Homo sapiens: one gene and its partners. The protein of the gene in region 3 interacts with the protein of the main gene of each other region in a pairwise test. Each region holds a gene or a part of one and is shown on either strand. Other genes may lie near its edges. The genes, in order: TGFB1, TFAP2A and TNXB.

Region 1 (3,649 bases), on a different chromosome or scaffold from region 3:
GAGACCAGCCTGGCCAACATGGTGAAACCCTGTCTCTACTAAAAAGACAAAAAAATTAGCCGGGCATGGTGGCACACGCCTGTAATCCCAGCTACTCGGAAGGCTGAGGCAGGAGAATCGCTTGAACCTGGGAGGCGGAGGTTGCAGTGAGCCGAGATCATGCCACTGCACTCCAGCCTGGCAGACAGAGTGAGACTCTGTCTCAAAAAAAAAAAAAAAAAAAAATAGAAAAAAAAAGAAGAAATGAAGTGAAGGAACAAGCTGGAGTGGGTATCTGTGGGACTAGCAAGGCAGGCAGAGGGAACAGCAGATGCAGGAGCCCCGAAATAAGACTGTCTGAGGAACAGACAGGACGCCAGTGTGGCTGGAGTGGAGTAGGCGTGAGAGAGGGAGTTGAGATCAGCCAGATTTGATAGCACCTTGTGGCTCACGGTGAGGACTTGGGCATTTGCCGTGAGATGGAGCCAGGTTCAGAGCAGAGGAGTGACAAGACAATTTATAGCATGCCCATGGAGGGCAGAGATTTCTGTCTCTTTTTTAAAAAAATTGAAAAAAAATTTTGTAGAGACAGGGTCTTGCACTTTGTTGTCCAGGCTGGCATGCAGTGGTGTTATCATAGTTCACTGCAACCTCGAACTCCTCGACTCCAGCGATCCTCCCACTTCATCCTCCCAAAGTGCTGGGATTAAAGGTGTGAGCCACCATGCCTAGCCTATTTCTATCTGTTTCATTTGTCCTCAGTCCACAGTAGATCCCAGCCCAGCACACAGTAGTAGTTCAATAAACATTTGTTGCACAAATAGAGCAGATCAGTTTACATGGAGCTGTGTTATTTTGTATGTTCCAGGGTGTGGCATGCCATGATTTATTTAGCCCCCCCGTGGATGGTCATCTGGCTTCTTACAGGCTTGTCTTAAGCATTGCGTGAAATTAATTATTACATTGCTCTTAGCACTGGAGGAAGTGCTTAATCTGTGTTAGTGATTATCATGACTATTTGTGTTGTTATTAACACAGTGGGTGCAAGGGAGACCCAGATGGAGATAGGGCTGGGGGGGCAACCTAGGGTGACACACGCACCTGGGGAGGAGGGGCATGTGGCTTCTATGGTGGTAGCCCCTCCCTGCCCCTGACGCGTCTCTCCTGCCTGCAGCTCCACGGAGAAGAACTGCTGCGTGCGGCAGCTGTACATTGACTTCCGCAAGGACCTCGGCTGGAAGTGGATCCACGAGCCCAAGGGCTACCATGCCAACTTCTGCCTCGGGCCCTGCCCCTACATTTGGAGCCTGGACACGCAGTACAGCAAGGTACGTCTGGCCCACCGGGCTACGAGATGCGCTTGGGGGGAGCCAGGACGGAGGAAGAGGAGAGAGAAAGAGAAGTAAAGTCAGAGAGGTGAGTTGGCAGGATGGGGAGAAAGAGAGGGATGGGGTGGGGAGGGGAATGAATAAAGAGATGGGGAGAGAGGCAGGAAGCTAGAGAGGGGCTCTGAGCAGGGGCCAGAGGGAGATGAGCTATGAAGACCCACAGAGTGAAGTAACAGAGGGATGGGGGTGAAGGGGAGAAGAGAGACAGGGAGATGGAAGGAAAAACGCAGAAATGGAGAGACAAAATGAGAGAGACAGATACAGACACAGAGTTAGGCCAAGGAGAGACAAAGACAGATACACAACAAGGCAAGAGGCGAAGATGAGGAGGGACAGAGACTGAGAAAGAAAATCAGGCGGGCGCGGCGGCTCACGATGGTAATACCAACACTTTGGGACGCTGAAGCAGGAGGATCGCTTGAGCCCAGGAGTTCGAGAGTAGCCCAGGCAGCAGACTGAGATCCCATCTCTACCAAAAAAAAAAAAAAAAAAAAAAAAAAAGCTAGGAGTGGTGGCGCTTGCCTGTGGTTGGAGCTACTCCGGAGGCTGAGGCGGGAGGATGGCTTGCGCTCAGGAGGTTGAGGCTGCAGCGAGCCATGATCGTGCCACTATACTCCAGCCTGGGTGGCAGAGCGAGACCCAGTCTCAAAACAAAAAGAAAATCAGACAGGTGGGGAGAGACAGAATAAGATAGGATGTTAGAAGATAAGAGAGACCGAATTGGAGATGGGAAGAGGGGATGCGGGGAGAGACGAAGTGAGAGAGGCTGGCGCGGTAGCGGGTGGGGGATGGGGCAGTGGAGGGCCGTTTTCCTCCCTCCACGAGCCCTGAGCCCTGACCCCGCCCGCCGCCCGCAGGTCCTGGCCCTGTACAACCAGCATAACCCGGGCGCCTCGGCGGCGCCGTGCTGCGTGCCGCAGGCGCTGGAGCCGCTGCCCATCGTGTACTACGTGGGCCGCAAGCCCAAGGTGGAGCAGCTGTCCAACATGATCGTGCGCTCCTGCAAGTGCAGCTGAGGTCCCGCCCCGCCCCGCCCCGCCCCGGCAGGCCCGGCCCCACCCCGCCCCGCCCCCGCTGCCTTGCCCATGGGGGCTGTATTTAAGGACACCCGTGCCCCAAGCCCACCTGGGGCCCCATTAAAGATGGAGAGAGGACTGCGGATCTCTGTGTCATTGGGCGCCTGCCTGGGGTCTCCATCCCTGACGTTCCCCCACTCCCACTCCCTCTCTCTCCCTCTCTGCCTCCTCCTGCCTGTCTGCACTATTCCTTTGCCCGGCATCAAGGCACAGGGGACCAGTGGGGAACACTACTGTAGTTAGATCTATTTATTGAGCACCTTGGGCACTGTTGAAGTGCCTTACATTAATGAACTCATTCAGTCACCATAGCAACACTCTGAGATGCAGGGACTCTGATAACACCCATTTTAAAGGTGAGGAAACAAGCCCAGAGAGGTTAAGGGAGGAGTTCCTGCCCACCAGGAACCTGCTTTAGTGGGGGATAGTGAAGAAGACAATAAAAGATAGTAGTTCAGGCCAGGCGGGGTGGCTCACGCCTGTAATCCTAGCACTTTTGGGAGGCAGAGATGGGAGGATTACTTGAATCCAGGCATTTGAGACCAGCCTGGGTAACATAGTGAGACCCTATCTCTACAAAACACTTTTAAAAAATGTACACCTGTGGTCCCAGCTACTCTGGAGGCTAAGGTGGGAGGATCACTTGATCCTGGGAGGTCAAGGCTGCAGTGAGCCCTGACTGTGCCACTGTATGCCAGCCTGGGTGACAAAGCAAGACTCCATCTTTTTTTTATGTTTTTTTTTTGAGACGGATTTTCACTCTTGTTGCCCAGGCTGGAGTGCAATGTCGAGATCTTGGCTCACCACAACCTCTGCCTCCCGGGTTTAAGCGATTCTCCTGCCTCAGCCTCCCAAGTAGCTGGGTAGCTGGGATTACAGGCATGCGCCACCATGCTCGGCTAATTTTGTATTTTTTTTTAGTAGAGACGAAGTTTCACCATGTTGTTCAGGCTGGTCTCGAACTTCTGACCTGAGGTGATCCGCCCGCCTCGGCCTCCCAAAATGCTGAGATTACAAGCATGAGCCAGCGCACCCAGCCAAGACTGCATCTTTAAAAAAAAAAAAAAAAAAAGACTGGGCACGGTGGCTCACACCTGCAATCCCAGCACTTTGGGAGGCTGAGGCAGGGGGATCACTTGAGGTCAGGAGTTTGAGACCAGCCTGGACCACATGGTGAAACCCTGTCTCTACTAAAATACAAAAAAA
Region 2 (3,649 bases), about 22 Mb from region 3:
AAGGGAACTAAAATAATCATAACTCCCAGTTCATGTTTAAATTGCTCTTATATAAATTAGTGCTCCTCTCACTTCCAAAAAAATGCACTGTTAAGTATCAGTTTCTAAAAACATGTAAGTATGAACACACATATACAGACATACAGTGCTCACTAAACCTTATACTGGATCAAGTGCCCACTTTCCTGCCTTCCATGCAAGGGCTGCTAAACATAACCAACAAATTTCAGTGACTAACTGGGCCAAATGAGAGATGTAATAAATTTTCTATTTTCCTACGGAACTTAAATAATGTTTTAAATTCACCAAGCAAGGAGGTAAGTTCATCTGACCATTTTCCTTACAATCTAATGTAGTAATCATTAAACTGTCAACGGACATACTGCTGCAATATTTGATGCAGTAATTTGAAATAGCATTTTAGTAAAAATCACATCCAGATACATTTCCTCTCCAAAGAAAAGCAGCTTTAACAGAAGCCTTTACAGCTTTAATAAAATTATTGGCTTGCTCTAATTCCATTTCAGGAGGGTTGTGAGGAAACCATAAATATATAGAATTGAAGCAGAGGTACTGGTTTAAGTTTAATTCCAGAAAGTATTTTCAAATTATCAATAGCCTGGTTTGCATTGTAAATAGTAAATGTGCTAATGCCATGCTTATTTAGAAATCATTTTAAACTGCATTTATTGATAACTAAATTAGAACTCAAATAATGTATTACCCAATAGTCTCGAAACATTTAATTTAATATGGAGTGTAGCAGGTTCTGATAGGCGTTGGGAACCTAGCTAATGATTTATGAGGTCACCACTTAGCACCCCTAGTAAGAAGAAGGCTGCATTTTAATGTCCCTCTGCTTGGATTTGCTACTTAGTTTTTCTTTAATCAGGATAGGGTGTACACATAACTTTTAGGTTTCACTTGTGCTTATAAAATCCGGTTAAAATGATCTTAGTGTGTCTTTTACACTTCCTTTTACATTTTGAGGACATTTAATGAGCTCTTTTGGTTGCATTTAACATCATTCCCAGGACAGGGAGAAATCTCCACGCCAGACTCAGCGATGGAAGTAGATCTTTTAGCAATTGAGACAGTTTACTGTCGTCGAGAGGAAGATATTGTTAATGGTGACATTCGTCTGATTTATCTGTGTTGGTGGAAATGGTAATGCAGGCATTGTTTGAGGGAGCTCCAGAAACCATTGTTCTGGGGTAGAACTCGCAACTACTTTGTGTGGTTCCTCAAAACGTCCCTCACTCTCCGCCTCCGAATAAAATGTTTTTATAAGGAAATACTAGGGAGAACCCGGGCCCACCGACTGTATGTTCCAGGTATCCTTTCTGGGGTAGGTAAGTAGGGGGCTGTGTTCCCTCCCGCGCTGGTTGCGCGGCCTCTTACCGGGACCTCCTCGATGGCGTGAGGTAAGGAGTGGATCGAGAGGTCTCCGAGTCCTGAGCTGAGCGCGTGTGGGCCGTGCAGGAGGTCCTCGTGCCGCCTGTAGTCCCTGCGAGGATCCAGGCCCGACAGCTGGTGAGGCAGCCCCCGGTGCGTGTGCAGGAGCCCAGACTCCTGGCTCTGCCTCTGGCCGGGCCAGCCTGGGTGCTGCGGCTGCGGCTGGGCGTGCAGGGGGTTCAGGCTGTAGGGGTCGTTGACGTGGGAGTAAGGATCTTGCGACTGGGGGTAGATAGGCTGGTAGGGTGGGGGGAAGTATGGGGGCTGGAAGTCGGCATTGGGGGTGTGGGACAGCGGCGGGGCGCTCGTGTAGGGAGATTGACCTACAGTGCCCAGCTGGGGCAACCGTGCCGTCCCGTTGCTGGTGCCGTCGTGACGGTCCTAGAAGAGAGCGAGAGGAAAGGTAAAGAACAAGGAATCAGGCGTCGAGCTACAACTATCCACACAAAATCCACTTGACAAGTCTGCGTGGGAAATCGCCCGTTCCCGTTGGCTGGCCGCCGGGAAAAAATCAGCTCTAAGTTCTTTTCAGGAAATACCCTCAAGTGAAACAGACCGAACAACGCAGAGAAACTGTATATGGAGGGGGCACAAGAGACTATTTAGGGGTTTCTTTCAAAGAGAGGAAAAGATAGAAAAGGGTCTCCTGGAACACAGCCCATTAAACTGCAGCGTGAAATCTCTCTTAAGCAAAATTAAAATTCCTCCTAAATACTAAACAGCAGAAGCGGCCTTTTCTTTTCCCCCGATTTGAACCTGTCTGCCACTGCGTTATTGTTTATTCTCTTCCATTTATTTGGAGAGAAAAAAATCATAAACGTTCAAAGACTGTTACCGTTTCATGACTACTTAAATAGAAACATATTTCGCAGAGGGGCTGTAACAAAAACACACGTTTAAATTACCAGCTTAAAGAAGGTTTTAACTGCAGGATCGGGGTCTGTCTTTTTCGCTTCCTCTGTTAGGAGCCTTTTTCTCGACAGAGTCGATTTATGGTTTGGATAGGGAAAGGGGGACGTCAAGTCAAGGTTTAAAATAGAAAGATTCAGCCTTATTGGGTTTAAAAGAGAGAGGTGCACCCCGGGGCTGTGGCCCCCCCCCCCCGCCCCTTCCACCCCAGCCCCAAAGGGCAGAAGAAACGCCTGACTTTAGGTTTCTCTATTGCAATTCCCTTGCAAAACAAGCGAAGAGAGTTGATTCCAGAGACCGCGAACCCTCGGCGGTTCGGCCGCAGGTCCCGAGGGTAGGGGGCACACCGCGCTGCACTTTTCCTGCAGACAGTTTAAGCATCAAATGTTGAGAACATCTCGGGGACAAGTGAAGACTCAAGGAAATCAAGATGAACGTGGGGAGAAACACGCCTTGGGAAGCCGCGGCGAGGTAGGTCTGCGTGCTCGGAGAGGTCGAGCGGGGGCTGGGGTAGGGGGTAATGCACTCGATTTAGGGATGGAAAAGAGCGAGAGAAAGGCGGAAGGTGGGGTGGGGGATGCAAATGGAGAGGGTGTCCTGAAGGAAAGCTGGGCGTGAAACCCGAGGTTTCGGGCAGCTCCACGGCACCAGGTTTCCAGAATCCAATTCCTAAAGAAACAGCAACGGGGGTGGGGATGGGACTCACCATGGCTGAAAAACTGTGAACTAACATCTGCGAAGAGTCTGGGGTAACGAGTCAGGGTGGAAAAAAACAAGCAAGCCTGGAGCGCCCGGCTGCCCCGCCGCCCGAGCGCGCCCCACACAAAAGGCGCCGAGAGCCCCGCGCCACCCAGGACTCCAGTCACGGCGCCGACGCTCCCCGGAGCGCGGGAGCCCGGCTCGGATCCATCCGAACTTGAACCACCGATTCGCGCGGCGCCTTCAGCTGGTCGAACCCACGGTCTCTATCCTGCCGCGACTGGTTATGATTCAAAGTTCTTTAAAAATGAAAAACCCCAAAAAAGGAAAAAGGAAAAAGTATGTGTGAGTGTGTGGGTGCGTGCGTGTTCCTTAATCCGTGTCTCCCCCTCTTTTCTTAGCGGCGGCTTCGCTTGAGCTTCTAATAACCGCGCTGGGCAGCGTTCCTGGAGCCTCCTAATAGCAGATATTCATGACTATTAATATTACACGAATACTTAATAAGGGAAGAATGCCTGGAAATCGAGCGTGAAGCGGAGAGGCAACTCGCGCCGGAGCCGGCTCTCAATGCAGTCCATTGACGGGA
Region 3 (3,649 bases):
TGTGCCCGGCTGACTGCCGGGGACGTGGGCGGTGTGTGCAAGGAGTGTGCCTGTGCCACGTGGGCTATGGCGGTGAGGACTGCGGGCAGGAAGAGCCTCCAGCCAGCGCCTGCCCTGGAGGCTGCGGGCCCCGGGAACTGTGCCGGGCAGGCCAGTGTGTGTGTGTAGAGGGCTTCCGAGGCCCTGACTGTGCCATCCAGACATGCCCAGGGGACTGCCGTGGCCGAGGAGAGTGTCACGATGGCAGCTGTGTCTGCAAAGATGGGTATGCTGGCGAAGACTGCGGAGAAGGTGAGCAGGCAGCCTTCCCCAGTGTACTCTGGGACTGTGATTCTGTGAACAGGAGCCATGGGGAAGACCTGAGCCTGAGGAAGAGTGGAGGGAGAGCATGTCATTCCAAGGAGCCAGTGCCCACCAGGGGCAGCAGAACCACAGGGGTGGGGCTTTCCAGTGGGCAGGACTGGCCTTCAGATCTCTGAGGAGCAGGTTGGGGCCCATTTAGTTGCATTTAGGGAGATTCTGTGCTCCTGAAGATGGAGAGAAGGTGAAGGCGATCCAAGCCCCGTTCAGCCCTCTGTCAGCTATTCTCCACTAGCAGAGAGGAGTGGGAGTTAGGATGGGCCTCTTCGATGTCCCTGAGTAAAAGGGGCTGTGGGTGGGGGTGGTTGCCTTGTGCTAACCAGCTTTCCCTAACCCATTCTCTTGGGCAGAGGTGCCAACCATTGAGGGCATGAGGATGCATCTCTTGGAGGAGACAACAGTTCGGACAGAGTGGACCCCGGCTCCTGGCCCCGTGGATGCCTATGAAATTCAGTTCATCCCCACGGTGAGAGAGATGCCAGGCTCCAGGAGGGGACTGAGTGGGCAGGACAGGGGGGCAGGGCTCACCTCCTGGAGGAAGTTCCAGGTGATCATTGGTTGAGTCCAGATGGCTGGGTACCTGAAGCTGCTGTAAAGGCTTTCTTAGCCTGCTTGACACTGGGCACTGAGGCCTCTGCAGCATCTCCAGCAAGCATTGGTCCCACACAGTTGGAACACCTGGTAACAGAGAGCTCAGTACTTCCTGAGGCTGTCCAGTCCATTGTTGGTCATCACTGTTAGCTGTTATCATTGTTGCAGAATCCGTCTGCCCCTATTCTAGCACCTGTCCGTTGGCCCTAGCTGGGTATTCATCAGCAGCTGGAATGTTTTTTGCTTTCCCTGTGTCCTACACCACAGGCCTTCAGGTATTTGGAGACACCAGCCTGATGTCTTCATTCCTCAGGCAAAACCTCCCAGTTTCTTCGCCCCTTTTCCCTAAGTCTTTATTCTCTGAATCCTTTACCTTCCTGTGATTCTTGCTTTTTTCATGTGCCCCCAAAATGTGGGGACAGAGAGGGGCCCACTGACTTACTCTGAATTTATGGACACTTTTCTCAGAGCTGGCGTATAGCAATTTGTAGTCACACAAGCAGGCAGCTGTTTTGGTCATATTTGGTTTTTTAAGTAACTTTTAATTATAAAAGTAATATAGGCCCCGTGCAGAAAACTTAGAAAATACAGATTAGCAGGGAAAAAAGATGGAAGGAAAGAAGACAACATTCAACTATATACACTTTTTTTTTTTTCACCTAAATATAGGCCTTTGCATTTGGCCCTGTTCAATGTTATCTTTTTTGGTTTGGGCCAAGCTGTCTAGGCTGTTGCAATAATTTTGAGTCTGTGAACTTCATCTCCCACCTCCTTGTCATCAGTACATGCAAACCAGTTTTTTCTCTGTCTCCCTCCAACTTGCTCTTTTTTTTTTTTTTTTTTTTTTTTTTTTTTGAGACAGAGAGTCTCACTCTGTGGCCCAGGCTCGAGTGCAGTGGTGCCATCTCAGCTCACTGCAACCTCTGCATCCCAGGCTTAGGTCATCCTCTTACCTCAGCCTCCCAAGTAGCTGGGACTACAGGTGTGCACCACCTTAGCCTGCTAATGTTTGTATTTTTAGTAGAGACGGGGTTTCTCCATGTTGCATGCCCAGGCTGGTCCTGAACTCCTGGGCTCAAGTGATCTGCCCGCCTCAGCCTCCCAAAGTGCTGGGATTACAGGCATGAGCCACCACTCCTGGCCATCCAACTTGCTCTTAAAACATTAGAGGGAACACCCTAAGGACAAAGCCTTGTGGTCACTTATTTGGGGCCTCCCTTTGTGCAGACTGGGCTTTTAAGATATGGTCGTTTCCCCAGCTGCAAATCTTCTGACATTTCTACCATCCAACTCATGTTTTCCTGCATCATCCCACAAATGCCATATGGGGTGTGGGCCATGTCATCCTCATCTTCATCAGCTTAGCCAGGACTCTGTAAAAATAAACAACTCCCTGGGCCTAAAGCCTCGGAAGGCACTAGGACAGAAGGGGACAGCTCAGAGGAACTGTCATCCTCACTCCACTTTGCTTTGTCTTGTCATTATGCTCCTCAGGCCAGCCCCCTACTATGTTCTGCCTCTCCTCACTCTCCAGCCAAAGCAGAAGCAGAAATCTCAACTTCGTGGCGCAACCAAGATAGCTTGAATTTTTTCTTCTGTTTAAACATCTTTTTTTGTTGTTGTTATAAAAATACTTTAATCACGAGACAAGAATTTGGCAACTAGAGAAAAGAAAAACAATTCCTGGCTGCTCCTCACTAAAACAAGCACTGCTAACATTTTAAAGTGTTTCTCCCACTCTCTTCTTCTCTGTATATATTATTTACATAGCTCTAATCTTGAAAGGGTGGGACTTCGAAAAGGAAGTTTCTTAAGAAATTTCAGGGAAAGAAGAATTAAAATAAACACTTGAGATAAGAGGAGCTTTTAGGGCAGCAGTTGTCTCCTGCTCTGAGTAAATAAATACAAACCGATCCTTGGTGTTGTCAAGGGCGCCGCTTTCCAGTTGAAGCCCTAGACTTTCTCCCTCACTCAGAGCCAGGATGGTGGTGCCAAGTTGGCCTGTGCCAGGCTTGGCCATGTTCTTAGCTCATCCATTCTGCTCTCGGTATGGGCATCTGTCACATTCTGGGTCTTCTCTGAGCCTGGGTGTGGAAAACACTCCTGTAAAATTGGTCCCCAGACACTCCTCTTGGGCCTGGGCTACCCACCCTCAGACCATGCTTTCTGCTGTCTGTAGCTGGTCCCTGGCATCGTACCTTCTGCCTTGGCAAGTGCCATCTATTTCTTTTCTTTTCTTTCTTTCTTTTTTTTTTTTTTTGAGACAGAGTTTTGCTCTTGTTGCTCAGGCTGGAGTGCAATGGCGCAATCTCGGCTCACTGCAACCTCTGCTTCCCAGGTTCAAACGATTCTCCTGCCTCAGCCTCCCAAGTAGCTGGGATTACAGACACCTGCCACAATGCCCAGCTACCCTTTGTCCATTTCTGTGGGTACAGAGTATATTCAATAGCTGTCTGTCCTCTGGCTGCTGCTGTCATCCTAGAAGCCTATCTCTACCTCTTACCTTCCCTCTTCCCAGAAGCACTTCTCTCTCAAAGCCCAAACTCTGCTATTCCAGATCAAGGGACATACCTAGTTATTGGAATTATTTTTCAGAATGCAGAAGAAGAAAGTTTCTCCTCTCCCTGTATATGTGGCACTGTTACTCTGACTCAGTGGTTCTCAAAGTGTGTTCCCTGGACCTGCAGCATCAGCATCA

Evidence for each region.
Region 1: the proteins of TNXB (region 3) and TGFB1 interact in binary tests that used the Homo sapiens proteins (3 or more experiments, as listed by UniProt).
Region 2: the proteins of TNXB (region 3) and TFAP2A interact in a two-hybrid assay, tested with the Homo sapiens proteins (one large-scale study listed by IntAct).

The regions. Positions count from the first base shown.
Region 1 is NC_000019.10:41,329,786-41,333,434, reverse strand, and holds the end of TGFB1 (transforming growth factor beta-1 proprotein preproprotein), read left to right. Parts: intron 1-1,153; coding exon 1,154-1,307; intron 1,308-2,224; coding exon 2,225-2,383; 3' UTR 2,384-3,112; downstream 3,113-3,649. UniProt on the Homo sapiens protein: Transforming growth factor beta-1 proprotein: Precursor of the Latency-associated peptide (LAP) and Transforming growth factor beta-1 (TGF-beta-1) chains, which constitute the regulatory and active subunit of TGF-beta-1, respectively.
Region 2 is NC_000006.12:10,408,500-10,412,148, forward strand, and holds part of TFAP2A (transcription factor AP-2-alpha), read right to left. Parts: exon of another isoform or gene 3,098-3,649; coding exon of another isoform or gene 3,071-3,097; intron 1,837-3,070; coding exon 1,402-1,836; intron 1-1,401.
Region 3 is NC_000006.12:32,092,253-32,095,901, reverse strand, and holds part of TNXB (tenascin-X isoform 3 precursor), read left to right. Parts: coding exon 1-291; intron 292-710; coding exon 711-826; intron 827-3,649. UniProt on the Homo sapiens protein: Appears to mediate interactions between cells and the extracellular matrix. Substrate-adhesion molecule that appears to inhibit cell migration. Accelerates collagen fibril formation. May play a role in supporting the growth of epithelial tumors.